Linked DNA regions of Homo sapiens: region 2 is linked to region 1. A link means that fine-mapping ties the variant in region 1 to the expression of a gene that starts in the linked region. Tissue or cell type: whole blood. Region 1 holds a variant in brackets; the other region holds the start of a gene. All regions are shown on one strand. Distances are from middle to middle.

Region 1 (8,101 bases):
TGATTCTCCTGCCTCAGCCTCCTGAGTAGCTGGGATTACAGGTATGTGCCACCACACCTGGCTAATTTTTGTATTTTTAGTAGAGATGGGGTTTCACCATGTTGGCCAGGCTTGTCTTGAACTCCTGACCTCAAGTGATCCACATGCCTCGGCCCTCCCAAAATGCTGGGTTTACAGGCGTGAGCCACTGCGACCTGGCCACTCTAGCATACCTTTGAATGGCCCTCACATTCTTGTACCGTTCTTCCACCATTTCCCTGGGGCCAGGTATGCGGAGGAGCATTGCAGCCAGACACCACAGCAGCAATACAAACTACAACAGAAAAAATAATGAATATAAAAGTGGCTTCAGGTACTCAGGTTAACTGCTGCGAGGCACCACGGCAGGCCCGCAGTGGAGGAGAGGGGCAGCTCTCTGCAGACCCAACAGTCTGTTTTGTTCTGGAGAGAGACCACCGTCTGTGCTCAGCTGGCAAGAGGTTTGCTGCATACCATCTATGGGTGAAAAGTGAGATGTTTAGTGAGTACAAGAAGGGGCAAGTCATGGTCATTTTTTTCTTTTTGAGACAGAGTTTCACTCTTGTTGCCCAGGCTGGAGTGCAGTAGCTGGATCTCGGCTCACTGCAACCTCCGCCTCCTGGGTTCAAGCGATTCTCCTGCCTCAGCCTCCCAAGTAGCTGGGATTATAGGCGCCCGCCATCATGCCCAGCTAATTTTTTGTTTTTAGTACAGGTGGCGTTTTGCCATATTGGCCAGGTTGGTCTCAAACTGCTGGCCTCAGGTGATCCACCCACCTCGGCCTTCCAAAGTGCTGGGATTACAGGCATGTACCACTGCACCCAGCCTCATGGTCATTTTACAAGAAACAGGAAGTTGTGTCCTTCTGAGACAGCATCACCCCGAGAGTGGCCTGGTGCTTGGTTTGCAATACCAAATAGGTTGGCCCCCTCTCTACAAAGTGTCACATGAGGCTGGAGTAAGACAATAGGGATATTATGCAGTGTGGGCATCCAGACGCTAGACTGTTACATGCATCCCCCAGGTGCAGTGGAGAATGTTCTTCTATATCAGCCCCCCAAAGGGGGCTGCCTGCTACCATCCAATCCTGTGTTTCTCCTTGTAGTAGGCACATGGTGGGCCCCTTAAAGATGGTGCCCAGATGTCAGTGCACAGGACTGTTGGGTCCGGCTCCTAGAAGAAACCATCCAGGCAGCTCAGCCCATTGGCTACATGTCCTTTGCCTGTATCGAGCCAGATACTCTCAGTGGACAGCTGGATACAGGTGGAAGGATTGCCTCGTGACAAGCCATCTGTGTACCAGGCCTGGTCAGGAATTGGGGCCTGTCCCTCTTATATAAAGGAGGGAATATGTGGAGGCTCAGTGCCTTGTCAAAGACTGTCCTTCAGCTGTCACATAGGTGACAGGGCCAAGCAGCAAACGGAACCCTGTGCTAGTTCGTGTACTCCTCTGTTGCAGGCATGCGTGCCATTTGGCCACAATCTGTTTCTGGGCATTCCCAGATTTTGGTTTCTGGAAGGTGTCCTACTTTCGACTAGGATAAAGGCTAAGGCCTCAGGATCCCGATAAGAGCAATGGTGGCTGAGTGTCTGGAGACTGGCGGCCACATATAGAGCTAGCTAACTATATATTGGTCACCTAAGAATGCACAGGCTGGCTGGGCGTGGCGGCTTACGCCTGTAATCCCAACATTTTGGGAGGCCAAGGTGGGCGGATCACCTGAGGTCAGGAGTTTGAGACCAGCCTGGCCAACATGGCAAAACCCTGTCTCTACTAAAAATACAAAAATTAGGTGGGCGTGGTGGCGGGCACCTGTAATCCCAGCTAACCTACTATGGGGTACTGGGTATGTACTAGCATGGGAACCCCTTTGGAACATCTTCCACTTGCTGTAAGGCATAACACGTAGTGCAGAATTATAGCTCCCTGACACTGTAACTTCAGTCCCCTTCCATAGCTGGAACCAGAATCCTAAAGGTACAAGTTTGTGTCCTTGCCTTTGCCACTGGTCCCAGTTGGCCCCCTTCTTGACTAAGTGGTACAGTGGCCTAAGGAGTTGAGCCAAATGGGAAATAAAAGGACACCACGGCCTTAGAAGAACTAAGAAGGTTTGCAGCCACTTTGGTGGTGTAGGATGTGGGTAGGCCTGCACCATATGTAGAATGGCAAATTGAACACCGTTAGTCTTACCCAACCAGATGACACCAAGTATTGGACTGATAAGCCTGGACCCTGCCTTTGTCTGCATTGACCGCCCATCCTCTGTTAACCAAGTGAGACAGCAAGGTGAGGGCTATAGAGACTCAGAAGTTAGCTGGCAAAAGACTCAGAATTTAACATCAATGTAAAGGAAAACATGTACCCTCTCCAGGGTAGTCCATCTACTGAGGTCTGTGGCCACTAGGCGTTGACAGATAGTGAGGCTATGGAAATATCCCCGCGGCAAGACAGTAAAGGTATATTGTTCTCCTTCCCAGGTGAAAAGGTTAGGCTTTTTTTTTGAGAGGGAGTCTCGTTCTGTTGCCCAGGCTGGAGTGCAATGGCGTGGTCTCGGCTCACTGCAACTTTCGCCTCCCAGGTTCACACCATTCTCCTGCCTCAGCCTCCTGAGCAGCTGGGATTACAGGCGCCCGCCACCACGCCCAGCTAGGGTTAGGCTTTGTGTCCCCATCCAAATCTCGTCTTGAGTTGAAATCTCTATAATCCCCACGTGTCAGAGACACCAGGTGGAGGTAATTGAATCATTGGGGCGGTTTCCCCCATGCTGTTCTCGTGGCAGGGAGTGAGATCTCGCGAGATCTGATGGTTTTATAAGGGGCTCTTCCCCCCTTCGCCCGGCCTCGTGAAGAGGGTGCCTTTCTTCCCCTTTGCCTTCTGCTGTGATCGTAAGCTTCCTGAGGCCTCCCCAGCTATGCTGAACTGTAAGTCAATTAAACCTCTTTCCCTTATGAATTACCTAGTTTTGGGCAGTTCTTTATAGCAGCTTGAAAACGGACTAATATACCAGGTGAATGCAATGACAAAATGAGGTGCGTGCAGTCCCTCTCTTATCCTCATAAGAAAGGAGGCGATATGAGAACAGCTGCATACATTAGGGGGACGGCTTTGTTGAACTCCCAGTAATATGTCATTCTCCGTGTCCCATCAGGCATCCACATGGGCCATGCAGGGCTATTGTATGGGCTGTTCACTGGTCTTATAATGTCTACCCAGACTTCTTTCCTTTTCAGTCCCTATGATCTCATCATGACCTCCTGGCAGGTGTTGTCGTTTCTTTTTTCTTTTCTTTTTTTTTTTTTTTTTTGAGACGGAGTCTTGCTCTGTCGCCCAGGCTGGAGTGCAGTGGCACGATCTCAGCTCACTGCAAGCTCCGCCTCCCGGGTTCGCGCCATTCTCCTGCCTCAGCCTCCGGAGTAGCTGGGACTACAGGCACCCGCCACCGCGCCCGGTTAATTTTTTGTATCTTTTAGTAGAGACAGGGTTTCACCGTGTTAGCCAGGACGGTCTGGATCCTCTGACCTCGTGATCCGCCTGCCTCGTCCTCCCAAAGTGCTGGGATTACAGGCGTGAGCCACCGCGCCCGGCCAGGTGTTGTCGTTTCAATGCTGCTATTCACAGAGGGGCTGGCAGCTGTGCTGGTGTCCATTTCGCATTCCCCTTGATCACGCGCCTCACCATCCTAACTCAGTCGCAATTCAGAGGGTCACAGTCCTGATGAGACAGCCCTTCCCAAGATGTAATCTGGGATAGGAGCTCTGTATACTAAATAGGGTTTGGGCAGCAGTCTCCTAACTTGTAATACTAGCTCAACCTGTCTGACTTTCACGACCCCCGCCCCCACCGACCATCTATTGTTATAGGCCACTGGAACCACGGATGTCACCACATACGAGAGTGCATTCAGCTCCAGTATCCGCTGGGAACAGCCTGTACATTCTTGTTTTTTTGTTTCGTTT[T/C]GTTTTTGAGATGGAGTCTCACTCTGTCACCAGGCTGGAGTGCAGTGGCACGATCTCGGCTCACTGCAACCTCTACCTCCCGGGTTCAAGCGATTCTCCTGCCTCAGCCTCCAGAGTAGCTGGGATTACAGGTGCCCAGCTAACTTTTGGTATTTTTGGTAGAGACAGGGTTTCACCATGTTGGTCAGGCTGGTCTCGAACTCCTCACCTCGTGATCTGCCCACCTCAGCCTCCCAAAGTGCTGGGATTACAGGCGTAAGCCACCTTGCCTCCTGGATGCATTCTTGGTTTTTTGCCTTTTTTTTTTTTTTCTGAGACGGAGTCTCACTCTGTGGTCCAGGCTGGAGTGCAGTGGCACGATCTTGGCTCACTGCAACCTCCGCCTCCCAGGTTCAAGTGATTCCTATGAAGGGACTCAAGATAGACGCCAGTGTGCCACACCATTGGTAGTGTGCCTACTGTAAGATGGCATTTCTCATGCCCGCAGTGAAAAGCTCCTTGTCAGGGCCTCGGTAATGCTCAGTGTAGATAGCAAGCATCACCCCTAATTCCCAGAGGATGTCCCTCAATTCCTCCATAATCTGTCATCACAAAGGAGATGTGGGGACATTCCTTTCTTTCTTTTTGAGATGGAGTCTCGCCCTGTTGTCCAGGCTGGAGTGCAATGGCTCCATCTCAGCTCACTGCAACCTCCGCCTCCCGGGTTCAAACGATTCTTCTGCCTCAGCCTCCCGAGTAGCTGGGATTACAGGCACCTGCCACGACACCCGACTAATTTTTGTATTTTTAGTAGAGACGGGGTTTCACCATATTGGCCAGGCTGGTCTCAAACTCCCTACCTCATGATCCTCCTGCCTCGGCCTCCCAAAGTGCTGGGATTACAGGCCTGAGCCACTGCACCCAGCTGGGACATTCCTTTCATTTGGCCAGGCTGCCTTGCAGCTTGCAACCACCCGGCTAAGGAGGGGGTGGCCCGATCGTCATTATTGGTGCCATCGAGGCACCGCCTCAGGGCTGGATGGTTGGTGATGGATGCCATTTCACTCATCTCTGTTCCATGTCCCATAGACAGAGAAGCCACCCTGTGACCGACTCTCTGCCCTTCTTCCTGAACCTAGTTCCCAGCTCCACCAACTCCACAGCCGTGGAATCCCGCACTATGGTGTCTTCCAGGCAGGGGCAAGTCTTGCAGGGTGACCCCCTATGTCTGTGGTTGGTCGGCTTTCATCTTGGTGTTGACCAGCAAACGTGCAGAGAGGATGGGCACCTCCATGAGCTCATCCCAGGCCTCACTCTCTTCCCCACTAGAGCTCTCCATGGGGTCCCAGAACTTAGGGTCCCAGGATGATTTAGTCATGAGGGCCCTAACTCATTGACATAGCAGCCAGCAGCTTTTCAAATGGACCATACCTGACAAGCCAGGGTCTCTCCATTTTGTCATCCCGTGCCTGCAGGCAGGACAGTCGGTCTCTGATGTTTCAGTCTGATCTAATTAGGCATCTCTTTGTCATCGCAGTTCATCTTGTAATGGATGCACCTTCACCTGCGCCATGAGCCCGGCCCCCGAGGCTGCTCAGAGCACAGTCAGGAGTGGCCAGCCAACCGCAGCTGCCACAGCTCAGGCATCTAACTTTTGCTTAGTTAGATCCACCTCCTGCAATAGCTCTTCCAGACCCTTCAGTGTTTTGGGGGCATCTCTGTACCCATGCCTTGGGCCTCATCCATCAAGGATAGTGGCTGTTGGGCCCCACACAGACGTGGACAGCCAGCCCGAGATGCCCCCCGATGATATTCTCCTCTCCAATCCCATCGACTCTGCGTGCACAGGATTTTCTCCAACCTCCTGCTGGGATCATCGGTTGTCGTGCCAAATGCCTGTTAACTTCAGTAGCCATGGCACCAAGTTCAAGAGGCTGAAGAAGAGACCCAGAGCCAGCACACAAAACACAGGGCTTATTTGGGGGAACTTGCAGCATGGGCCAGTGGTGGTGGACTGGACAGGAGAACTACAACCATTTGCAAAAAGCATGCAGTTCAGGCCAGACTCGGTGGCTCGTGCCTGTAATCCCAGTACTTTGGGAGGCTGAGGCAGGTGGACCACTTGAGGTCAGGAGTTCGAGACCAGCCTGGCCAACATGGTGAAACCGTCTCTACTAATAATATAAAAATTAGCTGGGCATGGTGGCGGGCGCCTGTAGTCCCAGCTACTTGGGAGGCTGAGGCAGGAGAATCGCTTGAACTTGGGAGGCAAGGTTGCAGTGAGCTCAGATGGTACCACTGCACTCCAGCCTGGGTGACAGAGCGAGACTCTGTCTCAAAAAAAAGAAAAAAAAATGCAGTTCATAGGGCACTTTCACTTAGCATCCTCCCCTAGCAACCTCTACGTGGCAACCCTCATTCTCAGAGGCAGCTTAAGTTATTGCTGTCAGGTGTATCTGCCATAAGGGTAGGGTTAAGGAAAGTTATTGCTATCAGAGATGTCTACCAGACACTCCCAAGCTCCCTTTTGTCCAGAGGCCTAAGATAGTCTTCTGTGACAGCTTTATTGAAATGTGATTCATATACCACACAATCAACCTATTTAAAATTTACAATTCGGCCAGGCATGGCGGCTCATTCCTGTAATCACAGCACTTCGGGAGGCCGAGGTGGGTGGATCACTTGAGGTCAGGAATTCTAGTCCACCCTGGTCAATATGTCAAAACCCCACCTCTACTAAAAACACAAAAATTAGGCGGGCATGGTGTTGGGTGCCTGTAATCCCAGCTACCTGGGAGGCTGAGGCAGGAGAATCTCTTGAACCTGGGAAGCAGAGGTTGCAGTGAGCTGAGATCATGCCATTGCACTCCAGCCTGGGGGACAAGAGCAAAACTCCGTCTCAAAAAAAAAAGTTTACAATTCAATGATATTTAGTATATTCATAGAACTGCCGCATTTTGCCAAATGGCTTTTTAGCATTTAGTGGACTTGTTGATAGAATTTTAAATATTGAACTCTCCTTGTGGGATCAATTCTACTTAGGTGTAATGTATTATCCTTTTGATATATTCTAGATTCTACTTGCTAATATTTAGCTTGTTCATCTCGTCTTTGTAAATGAGGGGTTTTTTTCTACTTTTTATAAATTTTGGCATTAAAGTTATGCTAGCTTCAGAAAGTAAATTGAGGCGCTCTTTATTTTTTCTGTGATCCTAAGCCAGTGCTGCTCAAACTTTAGTATGCTGAAAGTCACCTGGAAAGCTGGTTAAACAGATCGTTGGGCCCCATCTTCTAGTGATTTTTTTTTTTTTTTCTTGAAACAGAGTCTTGCTCTTGTCACCCAGGCTGGAGTGCAATGGTGCGATCTCGGCTCACTGCAACCTCCGCCTCCCAGGTTCAAGCGATTCTCCTGCCTCAGCCGTCTCGAATAGCTGGGATTACAGGCGTGCACCACCACTCCTGTCTAATTTTTGTAGTTTTAGTAAAGACAGGGTTTCGCCATGTTGGCCAGGCTGTTCTCGAACTCCTGACCTCGTGATCTGCCCGCCTTGGCCTCCCAAAGTTCTGGGATAACAGGCGTGAGCCACTGCACCCGGCCGCCCGCTAGTGATTTTTATGTGGTGAATCTGGATTCAGGTTCATTAATTTGCATTTATCACACTCCCAGGTGATGCTTAGGATTCGTGGGCCACACTTTGAGCAGCCTGGTGTAATTGACATTAGAACCATCTGCTTTTTAAAGGTTAAATCGAACTCATCTCTGAACCCATCTGGTCCCAGAGCCCATTTGTGCAGTAAATCTCTACTCATCTTTCCAACCCTTTCCATTAATTTTCCCCAAAATTCTTGGATTATTTTTAGTAATTTACATTTGCCAGACACTTTCAGTTTCCTCTAAGGTTTCAGATTTGTTGACCTAGGATTTCATATAGCATATGTCCTTAAAATTCTAAATTTGATGGCTGTGTCTCTTTTCTCATTTTTTACATTTTGTTATTTTTATTTATCTTTTTCTCAATCAGATTCACAAGTGGCATTTGGATTTACTTAGCATTTTTACTTTATTTTCTATCTTATTAATGTCAACTTTATAATTACAATTTCTAGTTTGTTTTGTCTTTATTCTTCTGATTTCTCAAACTCCTGA
Region 2 (8,101 bases), 54 kb before region 1:
GCCAACCCTCACCGTCTTCAGGCATCTACCCGCTCCCCTAGTCACCAGGGCACTCTAGTCTCCTTACTAGTGCACCCTCGCTTCACCTTTTCCAAGCCTGGCCCCTCCCTAGACATCTGTATTCCAGAGCCAGCCCAGCCTTTTCTTTAGGCCCTGCCCTTCCTGCAGACCCCGCCCCCTTCAGAGGGCCCCGCCCCTCCTGCCGTACCTTTCCTTTTCTCGTAGACCCCGCCCTTTCTCAGGCCGCTACTCACTGACAGCCCTCCCCCTCCCGCAGGCCCCGCCCCATTCGACAGGTTTATGCTCCGAACCCCTGCCCACCTCGCGGTAGATGTGGCTCTCTGCAGGGACAGCGCAGATGTCTGCACTGTGTCTGGACCGCGCCAGGTGTCCAAGCCTGCTGAGCTGGGGCAAGATCACCTTATCTAGGATTGTGGAGTCGTTGGTCGCCGACAAGTTGTAGCAGGAGCAGGGCACGCGGTGCGCCTCCGACCCGTTACCTCTCAGGATGAGGACTTGGAACCAGTCCTGCGGGTAGTGCCAGCCGCAGCAGCGCAGCTGGGAGAGGGATACGAGTCAGAGGGACCGGGACTGGAGACATATGATGTTGGGGATCAGGGGACAAGGTGATGGGTATGAGGTCAGGTCGGGGAGCAGGGGACTAAGTGGTGGGTGTGGAGTGGGGGACAGTGGGCTGGGGTCACGATGGGGCCGGAGCCAGGGGACATTACGGGAACATGGGGCTGGGAAAGACGAGTCACGGGGTGACCTGGGGCTGGGGAAGGAGCTGCAGGGTCGCGCTGTGGACTAGAGATTGGGTGGGTGGTGCAATTGAGCCTCTGATACCCGACAGGTGAATAGGAGTGCGAGACCATGTGAGTCTCATCGGGGGCGGGGTCCGGTGGAAGCCAGAGTCACTACGGGGTAGGAAGCCGTGTCTCGCTAGGGTCTTGGGACTAGGGGCCTGACAACCTCTGGTCGGGGCGGGGGCGGGGGCGGAGTCTCTCGAGGTAGATGGCGAAGCCACGCCAGGGTCTGGGTACTGGGAGACCAGGCGACGCCGGGGACAGTTGTGTCATCTGGGGAGTGGGGAGCGTCGGGCCTGGGAGGGATTGGGGTGTGTTAGGATCGTAGAGCTGGGGGTCGGGCCCACGTTGGGGTGGAGTCTCCTCCAAGCACAGGGCTGAGGCGGGTCAGTCCGGGAGGGAACTGGAGGAGGGGGGCTTACCTGGAACTGCACATAGTCCCAGCTCTCCTCGGCCGCGGTCTCCTCGGGGTTGGTGCCGTACTTTTGGATGGTTTTCTCTACGACGTCCCGCAAGCTTCGCTCCAGCTGAGAGGCCACCAGTGAGGCTGGGCCTTATCTTCCCCGCCCCACCCCTCCCCCTCTCAGGCTGTGCCAGCCTCAGGCGGGCCCTGTGCATCTCTGGGCCAGTCTCAAATCCTTACTGAATGGCTAGCTCTGTGTACTTCAGGTCTGTCTTTCTGTTTCTTCCACTATTTCTACGGCTCATAAGTCTCTGTCTCTTCTTTCAGGGCGTCTATTTCTTTCTCTTGTTCTCTCTTTTTCCCGTGTGTTTCCCTTTGGAGCTGTTTATGCCTGTCTCCCTTGGTCCAGGTCGGTGTGTCTTTCTATTAATTTATTTTTTGAGACAGGGTCTCACTCTGTCACCCAGGCTGAGTGCATGGCTCACTGTAGCCTCAAACTCCCTGGCTCAAGTGATCCTCCCACCTCGACCTCCCAAGTAGCTGGGACCCCAGGTGCACACCATCACACCCGGATTTTTTTTTTAAATATAGATGGGGTCTCACTATGTTGCCCAGGCTGGTCTCAAACTCCTGGACTCCCACCTCAGCCTCCCAAAGTGCTGGGATTATGGGATTACAGGCGTGAGCCACCAGGCCCAGCCTCTTATTTCTCTTTATCTAGGTTAGCCCCTGTCTGCCCTTGTTTCGGTCTCTCTCCACCCTCTCCCACCACTCCCTTCCCTCTCCTCCCTGCTGGGGGTGGGTGGTGGCCACTGCAGGAAGCTCACCTGGGCCCGCTGAGTGGAGATGAGGATTCCCAGGGTGATCTGTGTGGCAAACAGGAGCAGCAGCATCCCAAAATACTGGGGAGCAGAGTGGAGAGATCAGGCTGACCACCCCTGCAACCCCGGCCCAGGCCATTTTTGAGGGTGGGGATAGGAGTGTTCCTAGGGACGGAGAGGGATGGTGCACTCACCAGGCCCAGGAGGCAGCGGAGCTCCTTGAGGGCCCCCACACAACCCAGGAGGGCGATGCCCATGGTGAAGATTCCTGAGATGGCCAGGACTTTGGACCAGATCTGCAGAGGCACGAAGGCCAAGCCTGGGAGAGGTGAGGGGAGTGATGATGAGCTGTGTGGCACAGCTCCAGGCAGCCCCATTTCCCACCTAGGCAGCCACCCAAGTGGGGAGCAGTATCTTGGTGCCCCTCTCTCTGGGACTCTGTCCCTGCCCCACCCTGAGTCCCTGTTTCCTTCTGAAACTTTCTCTTCTTTCTGGGCCTGTTTCCCGTCCCTGGATCTCTGTCTCTCTTCCTCTTACCCTCTCCTTCCTCCTTCAGCTCCTCCTCGTCCCCAGTAGTTTCAGCCCTATCACTTGTTCTGTGACATTGGCTTGGCTCCTTAAACCTCCCTGAGGCATAGGAGATGATATCTATTTCTTAGGGTTTTTTTTTGAGTTGGAGCCTCGCTCTGTCCCCCAGGCTGGAGTGCAGTGATGTGATCTCGGCTCACTGCAACCTCTGCCTCCCAGGTTCAAGTGATTCTCCTGCCTCAGCCTCCCTAGTAGCTGCGACTACAGGCATGTGCCACCATGCCTGGCTAACGTTTTGTATTTTTGAGTAGAGACAGGGTTTCACCATGTTGGCCAGGCTATTCTCGAACTCCTGACCTCAAGTGATCCACCTGCCTCGGCTTCCCAAAGTGCTGGAATTACAGGTGTGAGCCACCGCGCCCGGCCCCTAGGGTCATTTTGAGAGACACATGAGGACATGTGTTCAACCCAGTCCTCAACACAGGGCAAAGACTTCTTAAATATGAGCGTTTAGGGTTATATTTCATTATTATTTAGGGTCATACTTCATTATTATTTTCCTATTATTAATGTTATTTTGGCTCTTTTACGTCCTTGCTGTATGACATCCATCAAGGGGCTTCCCCTCTCTGAACCTCAAGCGAGGGGAAGGTTTGTGGGGGCATCTGACCAGCCACAAGTCCCGACAGATAGGAAGTGCTTGAGAAATGGCTCTCATGATCATTGTTGTTTGTATGCACAACCCCATTTGCCGGAAGAAGACTCAGGCTCCAAGAAGCCTCCGGTGAGCAGTGGATGGGAGCCTGTAGCCTGCCTGCAGAGTAGGGCACCGTAGGTCTCCCTGAGACAAGGGAGACCCCAGGAAGTTGCTTGGGTTGGGGGAGGCCCTCCCACCTGCCCCAGCCCCCCTCACCCACAAAGGACACGAAGCTGGTCTTGTCAATGAGGATCCAGATGCCGAAGCAGAAGATCAGGCTGCCGAGGACCTGGGGAGAGGAGATGCGGATACGGGGGTGGGCCACAGGGGAAGATGAGGGCTGGGTTAGCGGCAGGGGCTGGGCCCCGGCTGGGTAGCCATGAGGCAACTCACGAAGAAGAAGAGGTTGAAAACGAAGAGGAAGTACTTGATGAGGCTGAGGCAGCTCTCCTGGGCTGACATCTTCACCTAGTGGGGTAAGCGGTCCACTCACCACACAGAAGAGGTGCTGACAGTGGGGGAGACAGGGAGAAAGAAAGAGGCTGAGAGAGAAAGAGAGACGGAGAGCTGAGAGAGAAAGGAAGAACCCCAAAAGAGGAAGTTCCAGGGGTGGGGCTCCACCCACTCCCGCTTCATGTAAGGTGGCTTTCTGTCTCTCTCTCTGTCCCTGTCTCCCTCACCTGCTCCACTGGGACACATGCTCTGGTACCTGAGGGGCCTTGGAATTTGTGGGCACCAAGGACTCATGGGGCAGTCCCTCCCAGGTCTCCATGTCTCAGGCGCTGGGGGATCTAAAGGGACCCCTGATCTACTGGAACCCACCTCTGGGCATGGGGACCTCAGGGCTGACCCTGGACAGCAGCTGACCTCACAGACACTCTGACCTCATGGCCTGCTAAGCTCTCCCATCTCTGCATCCAGCTGTGTCTCCCATTTCCTGCCCTGGGTCTCTTGTTCCTCCTCTCTGGGTCTTTGTCCCCACCTTCCTGCTACTCCCCATCTCTGTCCCCTTATCTCAGCAGAGTCTCTCCCTCCTCTGGGTCTCTGTCCTCCTGCCTCCTGGGGTCTCTATCCTCCCTCTCTCTGTGTTTCTTTATTTTATTTATATATTTGTTTCTTTTTGAGACAGGGTCTCACTTTTCACCCAGGCTGGAGTACGGTGGGGAAAACAGCTCACTGTAGCCTGGGCTCAAGCTATCCTCCCACCTCTGCCTTCTGAGTAGCTGGGATTACAGGTGCACACTACCATGCCTGGCTAATTTTTGTATTTTTTGTAGAAATGGGGTCTTGCTATGGAGTGGGAGTGTTGTATTTTTTATATTTAATTAAAAAAAAACAGAGATAGGGTCTCACTAGGTTGCCCAGGCTGGTCTGGAACTCCTGGACTCAAGCGACCCTCCTGCCTTGGCCTCCCAAAGTGTTGGGATTACAGGCGTGAGCCACTGTGCCTGGCCTCTCTCTGCTTCTGGCCCCTTCTTTGGGTCCTTCCTCCTTTCTCTCTTCATCTCTCTTTTGTTTTTGTTTTTGAGACAGGGTCGCCCAGGCTGGAATGCAGTAGTGCGATCATAGCTCACTGCAGCCCCAACCTTCCCAGGCTCGAGCAATCCTTGCACCTCAGCCTCCCAAGTAGCTGGGACTACAGGTGCACACCACCATGCCTGGCTAATTTTCTTCATTTTTTGTAGAGATGGGAGTCTCACTGTGTTGCCTAGGCTGGTCTCAAATTTCTGGGCTCAAGTGATCCTCCTGCCTTGGCCTCCTAAAGTGCTGGGATTATGGGCGTGAGCCACTGTGCCCAGCCTGTCTTCTTTTCTCTGTCTCCCCCTTCCCCACTTGTTTTTGTGCCTCTCAGAGTCTGCAGCCTGTTCTGGACCAGGGAGCACCCAGGTGCTGGGGGCAGGGGCTGGGTACCTGGGGAAGTGAAAGTGCTACAGGCTCGAGGTGGGAAGGTCCCTGGGAGTGGGGAGGGCGCTGGGCCGTGCCAACACCCCCAGCGGAAGCTGAGCATCAGGCGGTACTTCCTGCCTCTGCAGTGGGGCCCGAGGAGCGGAGGCCCCAGAGGAGGAGGCACTGAGCCTGGGATCCTGACAGTCAGATCTGGGTCTGCAGTGCCTGGTTGCAGGTGCACACCCAGTGGCCTCTGCAGTTTCCTCTGATGTCCCCAAATTCTCTCACCTGGTTTCCTCATCTGAGGCAGCCCCACCATCTATCTAGTCATGAGGTCAAAGCTCCATCTTGTCCCCTCTTCCCCAACAGCGCATCAGTCTCTTAGCCAGATCCCTCCTGCCTGCTGAGTCTCCACTCCACCCCTCTTCTCTGTCCTGAGGGCTCAGGCAGGCTCTGGGCTCCTGCTCTCCTACCTGGACCCTGACTTTAGGCTTCTCCCTGGCTTCTAGTTTCTCCCTCCAGTCTGTCCCCCACATAGCCCCAGAGGGGTCTTTTTGAAACCCAGTCCTGAGCCACACAGTTCTGTATCCAAACGCTGAGTCACCACCTGCCTCATCCCTCAGCTTTTATTTTTTTGGTGGTTGTTGAGACAGAGTCTCACTCTTCGCCCAGGCTGGAGTACAGTGGTGCAATCAGCTGACTGCAACCTCCGCCTCCTGGGTTCAAGCGATTCTCCTGCCTCATTCTCCCAAGTAGCTGGGATTACAGGCATGACCCACTACGCCCGGCTAATTTTTGTATTTTTGGTAGAGACGGGGTTTCACCATGTTGGCCAGGCTGACCTCGAACTCCTGACCTCAAGTGATCCGCTCACCTCGGCCTCCCCAAGTGCTGGGATTACAGGCATGAGCCACCACACCCAGGTTTTTGTTGTTGTTGTTGTTTGTTTGTTTTGAGATGGAGTCTCACTCTGTTGACCAGGCTGGAGTGCAGTGGCACGATTATGGCTCACTGCAACCTCTGCCTCCTGCGTTCAAGCAATTCTCCTGTCTCAGCCTCCAGAGTAGCTGGGATTACAGGCATGCACCACCATACCTGACTAATTTTTGTATTTTTAGTACAGACAGGGTTTCACCATGTTGGCCAGGCTGGTGTTGAACTCCTGACCTCAAGTGATCCAACTGCCTTGGCCTCCCAAAGTGCTGACATTACAGGTGTAAGCCACTGCGCCCAGCCCCTCAGCTTCTGTTTCTAACCACCACCAACGCCTCTCTGCTCTACCATTAAAGTACATTGCAAACCCAGCCACTTCTTTCCAAGGCCACCATCCTAAGTCAGGTTCCCATCATTTTCTACAAAAATAATTATAGCTGATTATAGTGGGTTGCATGGCGTTCTCCAAAAAGATATGTCTATGTCCTAATCCCCAGAACTTGTGGTGACCTTATTTGGAAAAAAGGGTTTTGCGGGTATAATTACATTCAGGATCTCAAGATACTGCATTATCTGTGTGACCCCTAAATCTGATGACAAGTGTCTGTTTTTTGTTTTTGTTTTTGAGACAGAGCCTCGCTCTGTCACCCAGGCTGGAGTGCTGTGGTGTGATCTCGGCTCACTGCAACCTCCGCCTCCCAGGTTCAAGCAATTCTCTGCCTCAGCCTCCCGAGTAAATGTGATTACAGGCAGGCGCCTGCCAGCACACCCAGCTGATTTTAGTATTTTTAGTAGAGATGGGGTTTCACCATCTTGGCCAGGCTGGTCTTGAATTCCTGACCTCGTGATCCACCCACTTCAGCTTCCCAAAGTTCTGGGATTACAGGCGTGAGCCACCGCACCCGGCTGACAAGTGTCCTTCTAAGAAACACACAGAGGAGAAGACACAGAAGAGGAGAGCACCATGTGATGGTAGACACAGAAATTGGAGTTCTACAGCCACAAGCCAAGGAACTCCTGGAGCCACCAGGAGATGGAAGATGCAAAGAACTGATTTTCTCTCAGAGCCTCTGGAGGGAGTGTGGCCCTGGTGACACCTTGATTTTGGACTTCTGGCCTACAGAACCATGTGAGAATACATTTCTGTTGTTCTAAGTAGTAAGTCTGTGGTAATTTGCTATTTCAGCCATAGGAGACTAATACACCAATCCCTCCTTCCCACCCACTGATCCCTCCTCAGAGATGAGTACATGATTAACCAGAAGTCGAAGGGTAGGTGGCAGAGTGCAGTGGTGCAATCACGGCTCACTGCAGCTTTGATGCTCACCAACTTGGTTTCTTCTTTCCTAGGCACACAGGAGGACTTCATTTCCCAGGTCTCCTTGCAGTGAAGTTGAGGCCATGTGACTGGTCTTGGGCCAATGGAATGGGTGCAGAAGGGACACAGCCCATTTCTAGACTCAGCCTGAAATGTCCTCCATAATCCTTACTCTTTCTCCCTTCACTCACTGGCTGCAGGAAGCTGAGAATTATCCTTGGACTTACATAAAGCATTTTGGACTTTATGTAAGTAACAACCTGTTGTATTAAGCTACTAAGATTTTACGGTTGTTTGTTAAATCAGCTAACCTTAAACATCCTAACAACTACAAATAGAATACCTGTTACTGCATACACTATATATATCAAAACATTATTATGGGCCAGGTGAGGTGGCTCATGCCTGTAATTCCAGCACTTTGGGAGGCTGAGGCAGGAGGATCACATGAGCCCAGGAGTTCGAGACCAGCCTGGGCAACATAGTGAGACCCTGTCTACAAAAATTAACAAAAAAATTAGCTGGGCTTTGTGGTATGTACCTACAGTCCCAGCTACTCAGGAGGCTGAGGTGGGAGGACTGCTTGAGCCTGGGAGATCGAAGTTGCAGTGAGCCGTGATTGCACCACTGCACTCCAGCCTGGATGACAGAGCAAGACCCTACAGGGGAAAAAAAAGTGGAACACCAGGAGCTACCAGAAACTGAAGA

What was found. PIP is the estimated chance that this variant, and not a neighbour inherited with it, causes the effect.
Region 2: it holds the start of CD37, and the variant in region 1 is fine-mapped to the expression of CD37 in whole blood (TOPMed, PIP 0.98).

The regions. Positions count from the first base shown.
Region 1 is chr19:49,277,085-49,285,185 of GRCh38, reverse strand. No RefSeq gene overlaps it. Among named protein-coding and RNA genes, the nearest start is that of MIR4324, 28 kb to the left of the region's middle. The variant T/C (reference allele first, on the strand shown) is at 3,976.
Region 2 is chr19:49,331,157-49,339,257 of GRCh38, reverse strand. It overlaps CD37 (CD37 molecule), which reads right to left and starts at 3,852. Exons shown (of 8, transcript NM_001774.3): 1 at 3,649-3,852; 2 at 3,472-3,544; 3 at 2,225-2,349; 4 at 2,037-2,111; 5 at 1,229-1,333; 6 at 322-558. The coding sequence starts at 3,717. It also overlaps a transcript of SLC6A16 not described here. RefSeq lists enhancers at 3,622-3,741, 4,232-4,301, 5,158-5,427, 5,698-5,777.